4 linked regions of the Homo sapiens genome follow. The protein of the gene in region 1 interacts with the protein of each later gene in a biochemical or structural test. Each region holds a gene or a part of one and is shown on either strand. Other genes may lie near its edges. The genes, in order: NCBP3, LRRK2, DAPK1 and SRPK2.

The links.
Region 2: the proteins of NCBP3 (region 1) and LRRK2 form a complex in vitro, tested with the Homo sapiens proteins (one large-scale study listed by BioGRID and IntAct).
Region 3: the proteins of NCBP3 (region 1) and DAPK1 form a complex in vitro, tested with the Homo sapiens proteins (one large-scale study listed by BioGRID and IntAct).
Region 4: of the proteins of NCBP3 (region 1) and SRPK2, one has a biochemical effect on the other in vitro, tested with the Homo sapiens proteins (one large-scale study listed by BioGRID and IntAct).

The regions. Positions count from the first base shown.
Region 1 is NC_000017.11:3,814,237-3,819,199, forward strand, and holds part of NCBP3 (nuclear cap-binding protein subunit 3), read right to left. Parts: intron 4,337-4,963; coding exon 4,027-4,336; intron 2,035-4,026; coding exon 1,880-2,034; intron 248-1,879; coding exon 86-247; intron 1-85. UniProt on the Homo sapiens protein: Associates with NCBP1/CBP80 to form an alternative cap-binding complex (CBC) which plays a key role in mRNA export. NCBP3 serves as adapter protein linking the capped RNAs (m7GpppG-capped RNA) to NCBP1/CBP80.
Region 2 is NC_000012.12:40,364,087-40,369,049, reverse strand, and holds part of LRRK2 (leucine-rich repeat serine/threonine-protein kinase 2), read right to left. Parts: intron 4,209-4,963; coding exon 4,000-4,208; coding exon of another isoform or gene 3,917-3,999; exon of another isoform or gene 2,045-3,916; coding exon 1,973-2,044; exon of another isoform or gene 1,407-1,972; coding exon 1,285-1,406; 3' UTR 1-1,284. UniProt on the Homo sapiens protein: Serine/threonine-protein kinase which phosphorylates a broad range of proteins involved in multiple processes such as neuronal plasticity, innate immunity, autophagy, and vesicle trafficking.
Region 3 is NC_000009.12:87,636,432-87,641,394, reverse strand, and holds part of DAPK1 (death-associated protein kinase 1), read right to left. Parts: intron 3,453-4,963; coding exon 3,314-3,452; intron 2,042-3,313; coding exon 1,912-2,041; intron 1,746-1,911; coding exon 1,697-1,745; intron 1,607-1,696; coding exon 1,580-1,606; intron 1,098-1,579; coding exon 945-1,097; intron 594-944; coding exon 548-593; intron 1-547. UniProt on the Homo sapiens protein: Calcium/calmodulin-dependent serine/threonine kinase involved in multiple cellular signaling pathways that trigger cell survival, apoptosis, and autophagy.
Region 4 is NC_000007.14:105,381,866-105,386,828, forward strand, and holds part of SRPK2 (SRSF protein kinase 2), read right to left. Parts: intron 1-4,963. UniProt on the Homo sapiens protein: Serine/arginine-rich protein-specific kinase which specifically phosphorylates its substrates at serine residues located in regions rich in arginine/serine dipeptides, known as RS domains and is involved in the phosphorylation of SR splicing factors and the regulation of splicing.

The sequences.
Region 1 (4,963 bases):
CTGCTAAGAAAGTATTTCTCCAATACACCCACTGTCCTCTGCTCTCACTGAATCCCCATTCCCATCCGTTTTAAGTGTTACCAACCTGATTTCTTCTCCCGAGTATCGGCGTAGAGGCCTTTACTATCCTGCCTGGGAACACCTAGCCTACTATGCACATCAGAAGAGGGCTCTCTCCGAACGACGGGGTTACTACTAAAAGCCTTTTCCGGAGAATGTGGTCTTTTTCCTAACCGCTGGCGTATATCTGAAAAAAGAGAAAAAGTGCACCAGTGACCGTGTGTGTGCTTTATGCTCGGCACCAGCCGCCTGACACCTCTAACGGATCTGGCGCTAACCCCTGCCCCGAGGACACAGGGCCTGACAATCAGGCTGCTAAGTATTCTTCCTTTGTAATCAGTCTGGATTTCCTTAGGAAAATTCGGACATAGGGGCTGTCAGAGGAAAAATCCTCAACTGATTACTCCAGAACTATATTTCTGAAGAAACAACCTTTTTTTTTTTTTCTTTAAGCAGAATCAAGAAGACTAAGTAATTTACAAAAGTTTCAGCGAACAAAAAATCCTGTGAGCTCCTGGAAAGTGGAAGGCACAATCTTTGAACATACAAGTAGTTCCCAATAAACTTATTACATTTAACCAGTAAATATAAAGAGACTGGAAAAGGCAAAGGATCAAATGTGTTTTTCCCTCAATCCCCCCAGAAATCGGCCTGTCCTCTTGAGTTCCCCCTAACCACCACAGCAACAACAGAAACACATTCGTTGGTGAGGCCCTGTGCCGAGGTCTCCTCTCACTTTAGCTTCTCTCAGAGAGCAGCACCCTGGTCTCTGGTCACTGAGACCTGAGCTCCTTTCCTCCAACACTTCCTAGCACTGAGTCTTCCTTCACAAGACTATCCTGTTCTTTATCCATTCTGTCTCCACCGACCTAGTTCAGGCTCTTGTTACTTTTTTAACTCTCTACCCCACCCCACTCCACCCTCAAGTTGTCTTTCTAAAATAGATGTAAGATCAGGTTACTTCTCATGTAAAAAAATCAGGTTTGCCAACAGAGATCCTACCCTCTCCAAGGCCTGGCTCTAATGCTACTTTCTCTAAGAAGTCTTTCACAACTTCCCGAGTAGATCTATGACGGCTCTGCGTCCCCTCCAAAGGCTTCTCACATTCCTAGCACCTAGACCAGGGTCTGGCACATAGCAGGTACGGCTAAAGACCTGCTGAATCAGTGTTTGAACATAGAAATTATCTAGTTCAAACTCTTAACTGTTCAGACAACCACCGAACTTAATTTCTATTATTCTTGTATATAAAGTATACCAGTGTCATACAGAGGAAAATATGGTTGGCCCTCCTCATCCATGGATTCCACATCTATAGATTCAACCAACTGCTGATCGAATACATGTGGAAAAAAAGTAAGACATAAGAGTACAGCAAAAAATAATACAAATTTTACACAACACAGGATAAGAATTTATACCGTATTAGGTATTGTAAATAATCTAGAGATGACTTAAAGTATATGAGAGGATGTGTGTAGGTTATATGCAGATAATATGTCACTTTATATAAGGGACTTAAGCATCAATGGATTTTGGTATCTGTAGGGGGCGGGGAGGGGGTCCTGGAAGCAAGCCCCCAGACATACCAAGGAACAACTGTAATTATTTGGAATAAAAACATTTAAAGCTAGTTTTTCAGAAGTCTGATTATTTTTCATTTCCTCAATTTCCAACACCTAGCCCACAATTTAGACATGATGAACCAGGACAGCTAAATCAGTTCACACATCGCATGTTTTACTCAGGAACCTCTCTCTGCCCCAGTCTGCTTTCCGGAGCTCAGAATCCAGCCAGGAATCCAAGTGAGGAACAGTACCTGATTTAGTACTGCTGACTGGTGGCCGTGGACGGGAGTGCTGACGTTTCTCATCTAATAGATGTCGGACATCTGCAAATTTCTCAGGTGGTAATTTGTTACCAATTCGGTTTTTGATATTGCTTGAAGATACACTATCTGCCCTCATGGAGTTCCTTTAAAAAGGGGGTAGGATGGGGCACAGTTAACCAACTTCAACTGTGAGACAAGACCCAAACAACAATCTCATACTTTGGAGGAAACAATTTAAGAAATCCTGTCTTACATGGCCAACATTCACTTACAAATCCATAAACTTATAATTATTTGCTTATGGAAACCATGATCTGCCTGCTCTAAAGAGACTGGTTCTGGTGAGCAGGTTTTCGAAGGTGGTTTCCACATGTGTATGTGCTATTACACAGCATACAACTACAAGTCCCCCTTTTCTGGGACAAACGTTAAGTAGAGGCCTACAAAGAGATTGGGGCTTCCACTTACACATGCTGTGATGTGGCTGTAGTCAACACACAGTATAGTCTACAGTCTCTCTCTTTAAAGGGCAGACTTCTCTTTCAAAGAGATATGCTATCATGCTAGGTGCCAGCACCGTTCCGGCAGCATTCTCTACCAGAAAGCTCTCTGAAAACCAAAAATAAGAATGTGAACAGGCTCATGCCTGTAATCCCAGCACTTTGGGAAGCTGAGGCGGGCGGATCACGAGGTCAGGAGATCGAGACCATCCTGGCTAACATGGTGAAACCCAGTCTCTACTAAAAATACAAAAAATTAGCTGGGCGTGGTGGCCTGTACTCCCAGCTCCCCGGGAGGCTGAGGCAGGAAAATGCTGTGAACCCAGAAGGCGGAGCTTGCAGTGAGCCGAGATCGTGTTATCGCTCCACTGCACTCCAGGCTGGGCGACAGAGCGAGACTCCGTCTCAAAAAAAAAAAGAACGTGGTGAACAAGGCCATACAAACAAATCAGCTTGAATGGTCTTTTCCCCTCCCCACAAACATACTACGTTACACAGAGCATCCCTAGACTCTAACCCTTAGAACTGTGGATTCTGCCTGCACAGAATCTGCTCACCCCTAGTAGTAATCAAAGACATGCACATTAAAATAACTATTTTTTTTTTGTTCATGAAACTAGCTAGCATTAGAAAGAATGGTAATAGCTAAGGCTGGTGAGCTTGTAGGTAACAGGTGGTAATGTGAGTGATTAAAACCCTTCTGGGATTAAAACCCTTCTGAGCCCGGGCATGGTGGCTCATGCCTGTAATCCCAGCACTTTGGGAGGCTGAGGCAGGTGGATCACGAGGTCAGGAGATTGAGACCATCCTGGCCAACATGCTGAAACCCGTCTCTACTAAAATTACAAAAAATTAGCCAGGAGTAGTGGCAGGCGCCTGTAGTCCCAGCTACTCGGGAGGCTGAGGCAGGAGAATGGCGTGAACCTGGGAGGCGGAGTTTGCAGTGAGCCGAGATCGCGCCACTGCACTCCAGCCTGGGTGACAGAGCGAGACTCCGTCTCAAAAAAAAAATAAAAACACACAAAAAACCCTTCTGGAAAAAAATAAAGCAATACTTACCATCTTTTTAAACACATATTGTTTTGTGTAATAACTGGACTTTGAGGAATTTATTGAGTTAGTGCAATTGTAAGAAAATAGAAACCTAAAGTCCATCAAAAAGGAATTCGTTAAATAAATCATGATACTTTCAAACAACAGACTATATACAGTTGAAAAAAATAATGTCTACAATATATTAAGTGAAAAATGCACAATGCAAAACTATAAATAGCATAACCTCATCTTTATAAAAAGTATACTTTTATACAAATATATCTACAGCTTTTCCCTGTGCCATACACACACACACACACACACACACAAATAGCTGAAAGGTTATTCGCCAAATTGCTAACAGTAGTTATTGTTGAGAAAGAATGGGAATACAGATGATTTTCACTTTCTATGTTGTCTTTTGTTTTTATAACAAGAATCACTGCTTGTATAGAGGAAATACTGGATGCGTTTATTAAACTCCTACAAGGGACTGAAATCAGAATAGATAAAAGATATTATAAAATTAGGAGGAATTAAGAAGTTATACTAGTATTTAAAATCAAATTAAAAGCTAGCTTTGATAAAACAAATTTTTACCTAATATTTTTCAACTGAGATTCCACTTCGTCAGCATACATAGTCATTTTCATGCTTTTCTTTGGTGAAGGCGTGGAAATCATTTTCAGTTCTAGATCATAGTCCATTTCATCTGAGTCTGAGCTGCTGGCACTGGATCGTCTAGACGCGCTCCGCTCCCGGGGCTGCTTGAGAGCCGGGAGCTCCTCGTGGTACTCTACCACCACTCTGTCATCTGCATCCATGTCCTGGTCTTCTTCTTCCTCTTCCTCTTCCTCCTCCTCCTCCTCTTCCTCCTCTTCAATGGGTTCCTCGGGAACATTCACTAGCCCTGAAGAAATTTAACCAGAAAACATTAGGAAAAGCACTAAAATTAACAAGTATGATTTTCTACTCTACATCGGTGACCTTTTTAAAAGGTGGGGTTCCCATCCCTGACATTTTATTGGAGCACTATCTATAATAGTGCCAAATGGACATTACTCTGATACTGCAACAGGAGGATGGCTAGGTAAAGTATGATGCAGCAGCCTAACCAAATACCATAAAGTCATTTAAAATACAACTGACCTTTATTATTCACAGATTTTGTATTTGCAAATTTACCAAATTTATTTGTAACTCCAAAATGAATACGTGCAATGCTTCCATGGTCATTTGCTGGCACGCACAGAGTGGCAAAAAAATCTGAGTCACCAGGCACACACACTCCCAGTGGAGGTCAAACAAAGCAACACTCCACCTTCCTGTTTCATCTCATGCTGTAAACAAGCGTCTGTTTCAGTCCACCGAGTGGCACATTTTTCACACTTCTGTGCCTGCTGCTAGTGATTTCACTGCTTAAAATGGCCCTGAGTGTCGTGCCGAAGTGCTGCCTAGTGTTCCTAGATGCAAGGGGGCTGTGATGTGCCTTGTGGAAAAATACCATATCAGGTAAGGCATTCAGGCATGAGTTATA
Region 2 (4,963 bases), on another chromosome or scaffold:
AATTTAAAGTTTTCACATAGTAAAATGCCATAAGTTCTGAGAATATTAAATGTACTAGTTGTCCTATCACAGGGAATTATCTGAAATAATGAATACTGGTCAGGGCCAAAGAATTTACCGAAAGTACTTTTCCTAAAGCAGAAATGACCTCAAATTATTACATAGGTATTTGGCCCTGATACTCCTATTGTGGTAAGCTATGTAAACAATTTAAGTATAATTTGGAAGCCTAGGGTGGCAGATATTTTTATCCATCATAACTAAAGCTCCTTTCTCCTTCAGCAACTGAAAAGTGTTAGATATTTATCCTCATGGTCTTGGTAGGAGCTGTGGAATTCTATAATTCTGAAAAAAAAAAAGGTTTCTATCTGAATGATGTAGGATCTGCAGCATCACAAATTTAGGGAAAAGATGAATATAAGCATTAGAATGAAGCAGATTAGAAAACAAGTAGCTAGTGGTATGAATAAAAAAATAAAAATATCACTTGAAGGACTGAACACTGTATTTACACTAATTATACAAAATTCAGGGTATCCACATTCAAACATAGAGTTGAAAAACAACTCTATTATGTCTAGGAAAGACACAGAGAGTTTCTGTGACAAAGAGAGTTTCTGTGTCTTTCCTAGATATGAGGACTTTGACAGTATGTCATGTTTTTTCATTAGTACTTTTAATGGAGTTTTCTTTTGAATTGAGTGAAGTTGTGTAAGATGCACTGTTTGCAACAGCAACAAAGAGAATTCACATACCAACAAAGGACTTTATTAGTGCAAATTCATTTGAATATTTACAAGCATATATGATAGTGCATTTCGATGCAATCTAAGAAGGAATACATTACATGGGAAACTGTCTTAATATTTTCATTATACCGTGCAGATTTCTAGAAAAATCGACAAGCAATAGTCCTGTCTTAAGCACAGAATTTAAAATAAAGTTTACCTCCATTACAGACAAGAAAACAAAAAATTATCGGCCTTATAAATTTTAGTATGAGTACTTAAATTAGGTACTTCACAGATTTATTTTCATTAATTAATGAACGAAAGTAACTGGTATTTATAAGAAATATAACATTGTGTTTTAAATAGTTCTTTAAAATACACATTTACTGGTAAGTATTTTTACATATATTTAAATTAAAAATAATAACATTCCTTCATACACACGAGCTATTTCAAAAAATGTGAGTACCCTTTCCATGTGAACATTTTTAAAATAAATATTTACAAGAGGAGAGAATAATTTTCCTATCCAAAGACAATTCCTATTTCTCTCTTACTCAACAGATGTTCGTCTCATTTTTTCAGCTAATTCTTTTCTCACTTCAATGTGTTTTTCTAAATTTTGCACTTCATGTGGAAGATTGATGTCCCAAACGGTCAAGCAAGATTGTATCTCTAGAAAAAGAAAAAAATGAAATCATGTTTCAAAGATCCATCATAAAACATTCTTATTTTATTTCAGTTTGGCTCATGTATTTTTAGTTGACTTAGATAAATGTAAATATAAACACAGCTATAACTAATGTACTAAATTATTATTTATAAAAAACTATACTTGGAAAAGTTTTATAATACATTATAGAAACTATTAAATTTCAAATAGAGTATCAACATTTAATAAATTAACATTTCATATTCTAAAAGAAATAAAAGCTTTTTCAAACACTGTTCAAAATTAGACATTATGTAGATATAGATAAGTTGTAAAAAATATTCACATTTCGTTTAAGGTTGAGCTAGTGATTGACACCTCTACTTCAGCTGAAAATATAAATATTTAACACTTCATATCACTTGTAATTTTGAAAATTTATGTCTAAGTTCTTTACACTATAAACTACCAATTAAAATTCCTGATTATACCATATGTAATATTTTCTACAAATTTATGAAACACATAATATGTTACCATCATTCACATCATTGCCCTGTTTGGAAAACAGTATCCTTCTAAATGTTACCTTTCTGCTTTTGTGTACCTTCAGTATTTTTCCGGTTGTAGCCCAATACCAGCATGACATTTTTAAGGCTTCCTTTACAAAAACAAAATATGTAAGTTTTCTGTTAAAACTATATATTAAACTGGCCTGAAAAAAAAGTAAAGTTGTTCATAGTTTAAGACACAAATACCTTGGAACTGAATTCACAATTCTATTTTCTAGGTGACCCTTCAATTATATTGAATAAAGACCAGCATTTTTTTAAAAAATAACAAAATCTGTGATCCACTCCTTGCTGCAATTCTTAATTATGTGAGTCTGAGAAAACAGCTTAACCTTTCTATAAAATAGGCTCAGTATTTATACATTACCCTTCCCAAAGTTACAATGTTAAACGAGGTAATGTGTGTGAAAAGTTCTTTGGATATGGTAAGGTACAAATATGAGTATTTAGTACAAATATGAGTATTTAGATGGACACTTAGATGGATGGATATACTGATACTATGTCAAAATATCATATTTTCTTTTCAAATCATTCACTAATTTATTCAACAAATTTGCATCAAAAGTCTTCTATGTAGGCCCTAGGCTAGATCCTGGGAAAAAAGGGGTAAACAAAAACACACTAACCCAACCGTCTTGGAGTTTATATTCTAGTGAAGAGACTAGCATTAATGAAAAAAAAATATGACCATGATCAAAACTATGCAAGAAAGCTGTTATGGGAACCCAAAGCGGGAACTTTGACCTAATCAGTGTTGGCTTCTCAGAGGTTTTGACACAGGAGCTAACATTTCAAAGCATATGAGTTAAATAAGCATGAAAAAAAGCTATGTTAACTAAGCAAAGAAATAAACAGCATGTGCAAATCCCTGAGGCAAAATATAGCATAGTAATTGAGAAGAACTGGATGTTCATCTAGACAAGCAAGATCTGGTAGGAATGTGGTAGATGATGGAGGCAGGAGAGGTACAGTGAAGCCAGCTCATGCAGCACCTTGTAGGCTATCCTCCAATTGATCTTTATTTTAAAATCAAACTATAACCCATAGACATTCCACTATAACTTCAGTTATAAGCAAGCTATTTGGGTCCCAAAGTACATACAATTCAACTAGAGAATGCAACAACTTTGGTAGAATAAGACTACTGAGACAACCTATTGAGAGACCTACTGCTCTGCTTGTGTGGACATGTATCTTAATAGTTTACAGTCATTAAGAGCATCTAATTGTAACTCCTGTGCAACTCTAAAGTCTATAAATGAAAAATAGGTGAAGGTGCTAGAAAAACACATGTTCCTCTTTCACATATACTTGCAATGAATATATTTTCTTCACCATGTTCAAAACATTCATTATTTGCTAAAGTTACATAAATTCTAGTTTTTTTCAGAATTAAACCCCATAGTGTCGTTTTTGTAAACTTTTGTATATATGCTATTATTGTTATTTTCTAAAACAAATTATTATCAAAGGAAGACGCAAATATATTTATGCAGAAAATATATTTTATGTGCTATCACAATTTTATCATATTTAAATATAAAAATAGAAGCAAAAAAAGACAAAGTTTGAGTAAAATATGATTTGTCAATATTTGTAGGTTGTGCAGTTCAGCATGTATTGCTGCAAGAAAAAAGATTTGTTATAGAATGAAAAACCAAATGAGATTCTTTAACAAGCTGGGAGGCTAGACTATGATTAAAACAAACATTTTCTTTATTTTCTTTGCTCAAAAAGTAAAATATATTCAATACCATGTATTTCCCATTTTTGCCTTAGGTAAAAAGGAAAAAAGCAAGTAAGACCCAAACTGAGTGTTCAGCTGCAGTAATCTGCTTCTCTTGTGGGACTGAGAGCATTTACTCCCTCCACTTCTGTAATGACCCTATTCACAATTTATACCAGTCTTATGTTTCACTGTGTGACCCTCCAAGACCATCCATATGACACTGGAAAGTTCAGAGAAAATGTAAACGTAAAATAAAGGCATATTTTATAAGACTTAGAGAATATGAAAAATATCTAAAGGAAAGAAACTTGCCTAGCTGTGCTGTCATCATGACTCTGACCGAATTACAAAAGTTGTAAATTACACGTATAAGTCGACGAGTTGAAAGATCCAGGAGTAAAATATGGCCTCCTCCAGTTCCTATCCAAAGAGCAGTGTTCTTCTGAAGGCAGAGGGTTTTCACTCTCCCAGAATAAGACATTTTGTGTTTTGATTCCTTGTTTTCTTTTACCATTACCTCCCTAGAACCATAAAGTATACATTAATAATTTTACCACCAATTAAGAGATAAATGCTATTTACATATGATAACATAAACAACATTTTAAATTATTAAAACATGACACCACCACCATTATGCATCATTAAAATTATACAAAGCAAATTTTGCTAAATACAGATGCCAAAGAGCCACACTTCTTTACTTGAAGCATAAATTATCAAAGATAACAATAGCCCTTCATTTTCAGGAAATTATGAATAAGAGGGATACAATTTTTATAAATACCAAAGCTATCTAATTCAGTAAAAATAGCATACATGTGCCCAGGATAAAGAAAAAAAAAAGTTAGAGTCAAAAGTTTTACATGAAGTCTCAATGTTACAAAGGAACATAAAATTATAGTCATTCACATGTAAAAGATATCGATACAAACCACTGAATTTTTTCCCAGAACCAGTGAATAGTCTAATTCATGACAAAAATGAAGTGTCCAGAAATAAAAGAATCCTAATCGTTTTGGTACTTCAGGAAGTAAGGAACCCTTTATCAAGGAGACCTGTTGGCCCTTCTGAACATAAACTGTGAGCCCTTCTCACAATCCATAGAAAAACTGTCAGATGAATCTAAGACAGGAAACTTTGAAGTATCCTTTTACAGATATAGTGTGTAATCTAAAATGTTCTCAAGAGTATCATAGATCTATATGGTAAAATCAAAACAAAATAAAAATATAAAGTGGCTAGCAAATAAGCTTGAAAATGGTCCTGTTTCTCA
Region 3 (4,963 bases), on another chromosome or scaffold:
AACTATCATACTTTCCCACCCTTAGCCCTTTCTGCCCTGGATTGAAGATACTTTAATCCAAATGTCAACCAGGCCAGGCAGGTAATGTAAAGGTGTAATGTTCCAGGGCGCCCTGTTCCCTAGCACCAAGGCACCTGTGCCACTTCCCAAGGCCACGTGGAATGAGGGCTCAGTGTCAGCAGATCTTCAGATTTCCCAAGAGAAGCTGGAAATCCAGATTTGATTGATATTTACATGCTGGAATCAACATAAAATGTTAAATACACTGTTTGGGCCAACACCCCACAGGTCACTCCAAACACAGTTGTCGAGTGGGCTTGACCTTCTTCAGTTCCTGCTCTGTGCTCGCTTATTCCTCTCTCCCCACCTCTGGGATCATTAGTATACAGTCTAACCTGTCAGCTTTTCTTAAGATACGATGCAAATAGCAAACTTAACACTCCAGGTGTGACCTGTGGTTAGCAGTACTCTATGATACATGAATACCAGGGTGCCCAAACCAATCACATAGAAAGTGATCTAAACAGTTTCGTAATATGCAACTCACCTTGATCCAGGGATGCTGCAAACTATCTTGAATTGTCATTCTCTTCCTTGAGGGGAGGGGGAGAAGAAAAAAAATGCTGTGACCATAGCAGCAAATACTAAGGTTGTTTTCATGCTGGCTGGGCCTGCCAAGCAGATACTGTGGAAAATGCAGTTCAGGGAAGAAAGCCAAAAACAACATCGGTCTTTTTGTGATTATTTCACTGTGCCTGCAGGGACTGACTGAGTGGGGGCAGAGGGCCCTGCTTGCATTTTCTGAAGCGTTTCACATGGCATGCTGCCCTTTGGCAGATGAAGCAAGCAGGGTCTGAGGAACGTGGCCCTGTGCATGGAACAGACACAGGCTCTGGGCTGGCTGAGGCCGTGGCCAAGCACCTTTCAGGAACGTGGACACTCACTTTGGATCCTTGACCAGAAGTCTTCTTATGAAATCTTTGGCTAGGGCACTGGTATTACTGAAGTATTCATCCTCAAATTCGTAGTTGACAGCGGATACATTTGCTAACGTTTCTTGCTTAGTGTCTCCAAGAAATGGGGAGGCCCCACTTAGGCTGTTAAAAATAAAGTTGGGCATAGAACATTAATGATGACCCCTTGGTGTTGTCATTTTGCTCCTATAACATCTGGAGTGTGGAATAAGATTATAATCTGGTGCTCGAATAGTCACAGTTTGATTATATTTCATAGGGCTTTAACTGTCAGGAGCAAATGCTTCAGCTTCAGGCAAAAGGATTCACTTAACAAGTTAATCTGGAACAGCGTCTGGTAGTTTAAAGGAAACCTGTTTTCTCGGCAGTGATGGACAGCTATGCTTTCTTTCAGTGATTATGCTACAGTTTCTGATGACTCATTTCAAATTAGGAGAACATGTTTAATTAGTATAAACTAAACATGTTTTGGGGGTGTAAAATGAATATGTTTGCATCAAAAGCATGCATAAGCTGAAGAGATCAACACAGCACATTTAATGGTTAATTAAACCTATGGTCTCATAGAAGAGAAGAGAGTATGAGTTGTGAATTCTGATACTTACAGGATATAGGTTATTACCCCGATACTCCTAAAAACAACACAAAACAAACAAAAAAACATGTCAGAAGAATAGTCAAATAAATCAGAAAGCAAACAACACCAAGGACATACTCCTTACCACATATCTGCCTCAAGACCAAGAGGTTCATAGTTGACTATCTCAGGAGCTAAGAGGAAACAAACACTCATTTAGCTTGGGAGGAAGCAAACTAACCGATTCTATCTTCATGCAACAACCAGGAACATGTAGCAGGGAAAGAATCTTCTAGCAGGGGAGGTTTGCCAGAATAATGTTTATGAGACGTAAATGACCACAGGAGCAAAGAAACTTACCGACAAACTCTGGAGTCCCAAATATGTTTTTAAATTCATTTCCAAAGTCAATTTTATGGGCCAACCCAAAGTCAATGATCTTGATCCGAGGTTTGGGGACATTTCTATCCAAAAGCATTATGTTCTCAGGCTTGAAAAAAAGAGAGAGATAAATAAAAAGCTATGATATGTTATGCTGAGGACAAGATGGCAGAATAGTTCTTCTCTCCAAAAAAAAAAAAAAGGCCAAAAAGTAGGGAAGAAAGGGTGGTTGGAAGAGAACAGCAGGAAAATACATGTCTTGCTCTAGGTTCTCCCTGAAGCAGGCCTGAGACAAGGATTCGGATGCAAGTGGGTTATGTGGGAGGGGACACCAGGAAACACTTGGTAGAGAAAGGAGATACAGGAAACAGAAGGAAGCTGCTACGAGGTGTCCTATCAAGTGGGGGTAACTGGGGGAATGGGAGAGGAAAAGGAGAACTCAGTGTTATTCCAATTGTAGCAGGAGGGAGCTGGGGTCTTTATCCACCATTTCTCCATCCTCCATGGCTGACAGTTGCTTCTGTGGACATTTTTCTTTTGCATTTCCAGCTCCCAGGGCCAGAAACAAGATGCCAGGAAGAGTCACAGGTATTTGCAACAAGCCCTCTGTTAGGATGTATATGAGTGTGTGCTTTTGCACATTGTTTGTGGGGCCAGCAGGGACATGAATGGGACATTGACAGCTCTGCTACAGAAGAATGGGGAAAATCCTCCCTCCTCTGAAATCCTATCCCAGCTCTACTGGTCTGAATCAACTACTCGGATGGAGCACGCGCTGCTTTACCAGACCACCTCTTCCTGCCTTGAACTGGAACTTCCCACCATTGCCACTTCCTATTGCTCCTGTCGTGTCTTCCCTTCCCAAAGAGACCACACCTCTGTCATGGCTGGGAGGACGGCTTACATGCCCTTTCATCTCCAACAGCGTCCTGCATCCAGCCAGGCAAATGCCCCAATTAGCCAATCTGAGTTTGGTTTGCTTGATTATTGGTGACAGAGTCAGGCCATACGCCTTTGCATCACTCAACACATTTTCTATCTTAACATGCCCAGAGCCACAGAAGGAACCAGTGCCAGTCACTAGCTGCTGGCTAGAGCAGCCCCCTTACTAAAAAACCTGGCTCCTAAGACCCCTTGTATTCTTTACCAAGAATTCCAGAATGTAATCAATTATCATTAAGCCTCTATCCCACAAAAAGGTTAGCCATCCCAGTGGGGGGCATGTATCCTATGCTTGCCGATTTATAGTGATATTTCTGTTTGTTAAACTGGTACAGGAAAATCATGTAACTCTTTCAGATGCCTCAATTTTTCTTAGCAGAGAAACAACCAAGGCTGTGATCTGCACAAGCTTCTATCTGGCTTACACTTTGAAACGTACCTTAAGATCAAAGTGGGCGATTTGAAGGGAGTGCAGGTAGTAAACACCATTAAGAATTTGTTTGAGAAATTCAGTTGCTTCCTCTTCAGTTAAAGATTCCTTTTCAGCTAAGAAGTCAAACAGCTCGCCACCTGCAACGCTGAGAACCCGGAAGCAGAGGTTATTGGTAACAACTCTGTTTCATATTGATTCCTTCTCTCATAGACTATTGGTGCGCTCAAACTTCAGACAAGAAAACAGCATAAAGACTATGCTGAAACCGCCAAGCATGGATTCAGAATTCTCTGTGCAGGTTGTTGACAATTCTGCATTCAGACACATTTGTGCTTGAAAGCACTTGGGAACCATTTTCCTAAGGTTCCGTGTTCACAAATGAGAGGAGGGGCAGAGATGAAATGCTGTGAAGAAAATATCAGTGTATCTTGAAAACATTTTAATTAAACATACTTAGAGGTGATGTCTTAACTCTAATGACGAGAAAAAAATCTGCAAGCCAGCTTTGTACAGAATTTATAGTGTATATCTTCTTATTTCAATTAGAGAGTACCTGAAAAGTTCATAACTTGCATGTTTAATTAATTCTTTAAAACTCAAATTCACAATATATGGTCTGATAAGGGTTTTTTCCTCTCTTGTCTAGTATTGGTTTGTATGTAAATACTAACACATTTATAAAAATCACATTTAGTAGCCTGGGCGCAATGGCTCACACCTGTAATCCCAGCACTTTGGGAGGCTGAGGCGGGCGGATCACAAGGTCAAGAGATCGAGACCATCCTGGCCAACATGGAGAAACACCGTCTCTACTAAAAATACAAAAAACAACTGGGCATGGTGACGTGTGCCTGTAGTCTCAGCTACTCGGGAGACTGAGGCAGGAGAATCACTTGAACCTGGGAGACGGAGGTGGCAGTGAGCCAAGATTGTGCCACTGCCCTTCAGCCTGGTGACAGAGCGAGACTGTCTCAAAAAAACAAAAAAAAAGAATACATTTACAAAAAAAGCAAAATGTATGTTGTTGGTTGCGGATTTTTTTAGTTTATTTCTCTGTCCAGACTGTAAGTGGGTGGAGGGGAGTGGTCAGAACCTCCCACCCCAGCTATTGGCTACTGCTGTATGCCCCACTCCCCGCCAGAGCCAGGCACACAGCATGCATTCAAAACTTTATCAGGTGGATGGACGAACAAGCTCCCCTAAAAACTCCACGATAGCGATGAATGGCAAATAACAGGGAAGTTTTAATAAGAGTTTTTATAAGTTAATCTTTATCAAGTTTAACCATATATTCACAACATAATAATTAAGTGCAATTATGCACAAACTGCTGTATTCATTATCTCTCTTAGGGCAAGAGCGCTCCCCAAACATTATACCTTCCACATCTACATCCATTCAGAGTAAGAAAATTGGTGCTCATAAGATCAGATAAGAATGACAAAAAAGCTGTTTTCTTAAAAGTTTCAGATCCCACATGCCTTCACCCTCCAGGTCAGTGTTTTCCTTAGCACGGTCTAGAGTCCATGGGTATCAGAATTATTTGAGGATGCTTTAAAAATGAAGATTCTGAGCCTCACTTTCAATCTGCTGTGTGAGGGCTTCCAAGAATGGTGACCAGAAAACTCAGCATCTTTAACAAGCACCTGAAAAACT
Region 4 (4,963 bases), on another chromosome or scaffold:
ATTCCAAAACTGTCTCACCAAGCTGGGCACGGTGGCTCACGCCTGTAATCCCAACACTTTGGGAGGCTAAGGCAGGCAGATCATTTGAGGCCAGGAGTTCGTAACCAGCCTGACCAAGATGGTGAAACCCCATCTCTACTAAAAATACAAAAATTAGCCAGGCGTGGTGGCACATGCCTGTAGTCCCAGCTACTTGGGAGGCTGAGCCAGGAGAATCGCTTGAACCTGGGAGGTGGCAGGTGCAGTGAGCCATGATTGCGCCAGTGCACTCCAGCCTGGGCGACAGAGCAAGATGCCATCTCAAAAAAAAAAGTAGAAGCAAAGTATACCCAGATATCCTTTAGCCTGTGAATAAACTGTTAATCCACACAATGGAATACTTGTTACCAATAAAAAGGAAAGCACAGCCAGGCACGGTGGCTCATGCCTATAATCCCAGCACTTTGGGATGCCAAGGCGGGTGGATCACCTGAGGTCAGGAGCTCGAGACCAGCCTGACCAAAGTGGAGAAACCCCGTCTCTACTTAAAATACAAAATTAGCCTGGCATGGTGGCACATGCCTGTAATCCCAGCTACTCAGGAGGCTAAGTCAGGAGAATCGCTTAAACCCAGGAAGCGGAGGTTACGGTGAGCCAAGATCGTGCCACTGCACTCCAGCCTGGGCAACAAGAGCAAAACTCCATCTCAAAAAAAAAAAAAAAAAAAAAAAAAAGGAATGCTCTGCTCACACAGGCAACAACATGGATGAATCTCAAGGGCATTACGCTGCATGAAAAAAGGCGAATCACAAAAGGTGACATACTGTATAATTCCATTTATATAACATTCTCAAAGTGGCAACATTAAGTGATAGAGAACAGATCAGTGTTTCCCAAGCTTAGATTTGAAGAGAGAGTGACTGTTCTTTGTGGTAATGAAACAGTTTGGCATCCTGACTGTGGTGATTATTCTAATCTACACAAGTGACACAATTTGTTAGAACTACACAGAGAGTGCATGTAAAACTGATAAAATCCAAGTAAAATCTTTCTTGAATTAATAACATTGTCTCAATGTCAATTTATTGGTTTCAACAATGTTCTATGGTTAAGATATCAACGTCAGGGAAGTTGAATAAAGAGTACACAAAGAACTCTGTACCACTTTTGCAAGGTCTTGTGAGTCTGAAATTATTTCAAAAGTAAAAATTTTTTTTTTTTTTTTTTTTTTTTTTTTGGAGACAGAGTCTCGCTCTATCGCCCAGGCTGGAGTGCAGTGGCACAATCTCGGTTCACTGCAAGCTCCGCCTCCTGGGTTCACGCCATTCTCCCGCCTCAGCCTCCCAACTAGCTGGGACTATAGGTGCCCGCCACCATGCCCGGCTAATTTTTTGTATTTTTTTTTTTAGTAGAGACGGGGTTTCACCGTAGCCAGGATGGTCTCGATCTCCTGACCTCGTGATCTGCCCACCTCAGCCTCCCAAAGTGCTGGGATTATAGGCATGAGCCACCGCACCCGGCCTCAAAATTAAATGTTTTAATAAAAATTTTACAAGAACAAAAAACAAAACAGAATTTTTTTTTTTTTTTAATTGAGACGGAGTGTCGCTCTGTCACCCAGGCTGGAGTGCAGCGGCATGATCTCGGCTCACCACAACCTCCGTCTCCCAGGTTCAAGCAATTCTTCTGCCTCAGCCTCCCGAGTAGCTGGAACTGCAGGAGCACACTACCATGCCAGGCAATTTTTGTATTTTTAGTAGAGACGGGGTTTCACCCTATTGGCCAGGCTGGTCTCGAACTATTGACCTCGTGATCCGCCCACCTCATCCTCCCAAAGTGCTGGGATTACAGGCATGAGCCACCACGCCTGGCCAGAAATAGAAAAATTTTAAGGAACAATGGATAAATGGATAAAATGTGGCATATTGACACAACTATTCAACAATATAAAGGAATTAAGTACTAATACGTGCCATAACATGGATGAACCTTGAAAACATTGTTCTAAGGAAACCAGACAAAGCCACATACTGTATATTCCATTTACATGAAATGTTCAGAATAAGCAGATTCATAGAGACTTAGAATGTAAATTAGTTGTTGCCAACGCAGGGGGAAGGGGAATGGAGAATAACTGGGAAATAAATATGGAGTTTCTTTCTGGGGAAGTGAAAATGTTATAGAATTAGATAACGGCTGCACAATTTAATGAATAGACTAAAAATCTGTAAATGGCCTACTTTAAAAGGTAAATTTTATGGTATGTGAACTATATCCCAATAAAAGTTATGAAAAAAATAAATGAAAGAGATATTTTAAAAATTGTACCTCCATATAAACATACTATAAGGCAAAAATTTATCCCAAGCTATGTGATGTAGCTAATTCCTAAGATTTGTGACTAAACAGCACTACAGTCCTTCCGTTCTGCCTGTTACTCACAAAGCAGCACAATTAATAATAAGCAAACTAAACTCACAGGACAATCTAACAGGATTAAAATTTTGACCCACTAAATAATCTTAATCTTATTCCTGACAACTACAATTTCCAGTGTACCATAAAAGTAGCCTCTAGGAACTGGCTCAATTCATAAAAGCTCACAGATTTGAAATGAACTAAAATTAATTAAAAGCCTGCTTGTATATACAAAAGTAGATAATGACAAAAGTAAATCATATTATACCAAGCCAGACCCACAGTCACATAATTCAAGTTTGCCAGTCATCATATTAATAGTTTAAAATTATACCTATTACTCCTTTTCCTCCTCTGGAAAATTAATCAAAAAGCAAAAACCGTGCTTCAAGAGACCTGAATTCTGATCCAAACGAAGCTATTGTGGGCTTAACCTGTCAGAGCTGTCTGTAAAATTCGGGGTACCCTGAAAATACTAGTCTCCTGGAGATTCTTTTACCACTTCTCAGGTGCCACTCCTCACACACTCAACGTCACCCGGTTTCCCATGCACTACTGCAGGCCACTTCTGTTTCCACTACTACCCCCATCCCCACAATCTATTCTCCACATAGCAACCTTTTTTTTTTTTTGAGACGGAGTCTGGCTCTGTCGCCCAGGCTGGAGTGCAGTGGCGCAATCTCGGCTCACTGCAAGCTCCGCCTCCCGGGTTCACGCCATTCTCCTGCCTCAGCCTCCCGAGTAGCTGGGACTACAGGCGCCCACACGCCCAGCTAATTTTTTATATTTTTAGTAGGGACGGGGTTTCACCGTGTTAGCCAGGATGGTCTCGATCTCCTGACCTCGTGATCCGCCCGCCTCGGCCTCCCAAAGTGCTGGGATTACAGGCGTGAGCCACCGCGCCCGGCATTTTTTTTTTTTTTTTTTTTTTTTTTTGAGATGGAGTCTCGCTCTGTCGCCCAAGCTGGAGTGCAGTGGCACAATCCCGGCTCACTGCAAGCTCCGCCTTCCAGGTTCACGCCATTCTCTCGCCTCAGCCTCCCGAGTAGCTGAGACTACAGGCGCCCGCCACCATGCCGGGCTAATTTTGTTTTTGTATTTTTAGTAGAGACGGGGTGTTAGCCAGGATGGTCTTGATCTCCTGACCTCGTGATCCGCCCGCCTCGGCCTCCCAAAGTGCTGGGATTACAGGCGTGAGCCACCGCGCCCGGACAGCAGCCCTCTTTTTAAACAGGAATCAGAACCTGTCCCTTCCACATGTAAGCCTCCAATGGCCTACGAGGGTAGACACGCTCTGACTCCTGCCTCCCATCAACCTCTCTGGGCCACTCAGGCCACTCTTACTTTTGGGTTTCTCGAATACTTCCAGCCCATTCCTCCCCAGGGCCTCTGCCACACTGGATCTCCTCCTCATTCTCGATCCTGCCCAAATGCCATTTCTCAGAGAGTGGACTCTGGTCCCGGGCTGCCTTGATTCAACAGCTGGGCATGTTACTTACTTTTCCTGTGTCCCTGTTTCACCTGTAAAATGTCCGTAATAACGGTGCCTACCTCTTAGGGTTGTCACAAGGTATATGTAAAACAATCGACAGAGTGACTGGCACAGTGTTCAAATGTCATCTATTATTATTACTTAACATGTCCCATCTTCATTTTCTTCCTATCCCTTAGCCCTATCTGAAATTATCTTGTCACCCTCTTTGTGGTTTTCCCCAAACCTCCCAAGGTTAGCTTTGCAAGGAGCTTTGTCTTGTTCAAAACTCTATCACCGGCCGGGCTTGGTGGCTCACGCCTGTAATCCCAGCACTTTAGGAGGCCGAGGCGGGCGAATCACGAGGTCAGGAGATCGACACCATCCTGGCTAACACGGTGAAACCCCACCTCTACTAAAAATACAAAATATTAGCCGGGCGTGGTGGCGGGCGCCTGTAGTCCCAGCTACTCAGGAGGCTGAGGCAGGAGAATGGCGTGAATTCGGGAGGCGGAGCTTGCAGTGAGCCGAGATCGCGCCACTGCCCTCCAGCCTGGGCAACAGAGCAAGACTCGGTCTCAAAAAAAAAAAAAAAACAACCTCTAACACCATCTCCGAAGACAGACATGTAAATACCTATTGAAGACATGAATAAATAAATAACATCAAACAGTTCTTTTAAATAATATCTTGATTCAGGTCGGGCACGGTGGCTCACACCTGTAATCCCAGCTGTGTGGGAGGCCGAGGCCGGTGAATCACCTGAAGTCAGGAGTTGTAGACCAGCCCGGCCAACATGGTGAAACCCCGTCTCTACTAAAAAATACAAAAAAAATAGCTAGGCTTGGTGGCGGGTGCCTGTAATCCCAGCTACTCAGGAGGCTGAGGCAGGAGAATCCCTTGAACCTGGGAGGCGGAGGTTGCAGTGAGCCAAGATTGGGCCATTGCACTCCAGCCTGAGCGACAAGAGCGAAACTCTGCCTCAAAAAAATTATTAAATAAAATTATGACTTGATTCAAAGAGTTAAGTGAAAAATGGCAATGCCTCAATCAGTTATATAATTGGGCTGGTCCCGTTACCTTACAGACTAGAGC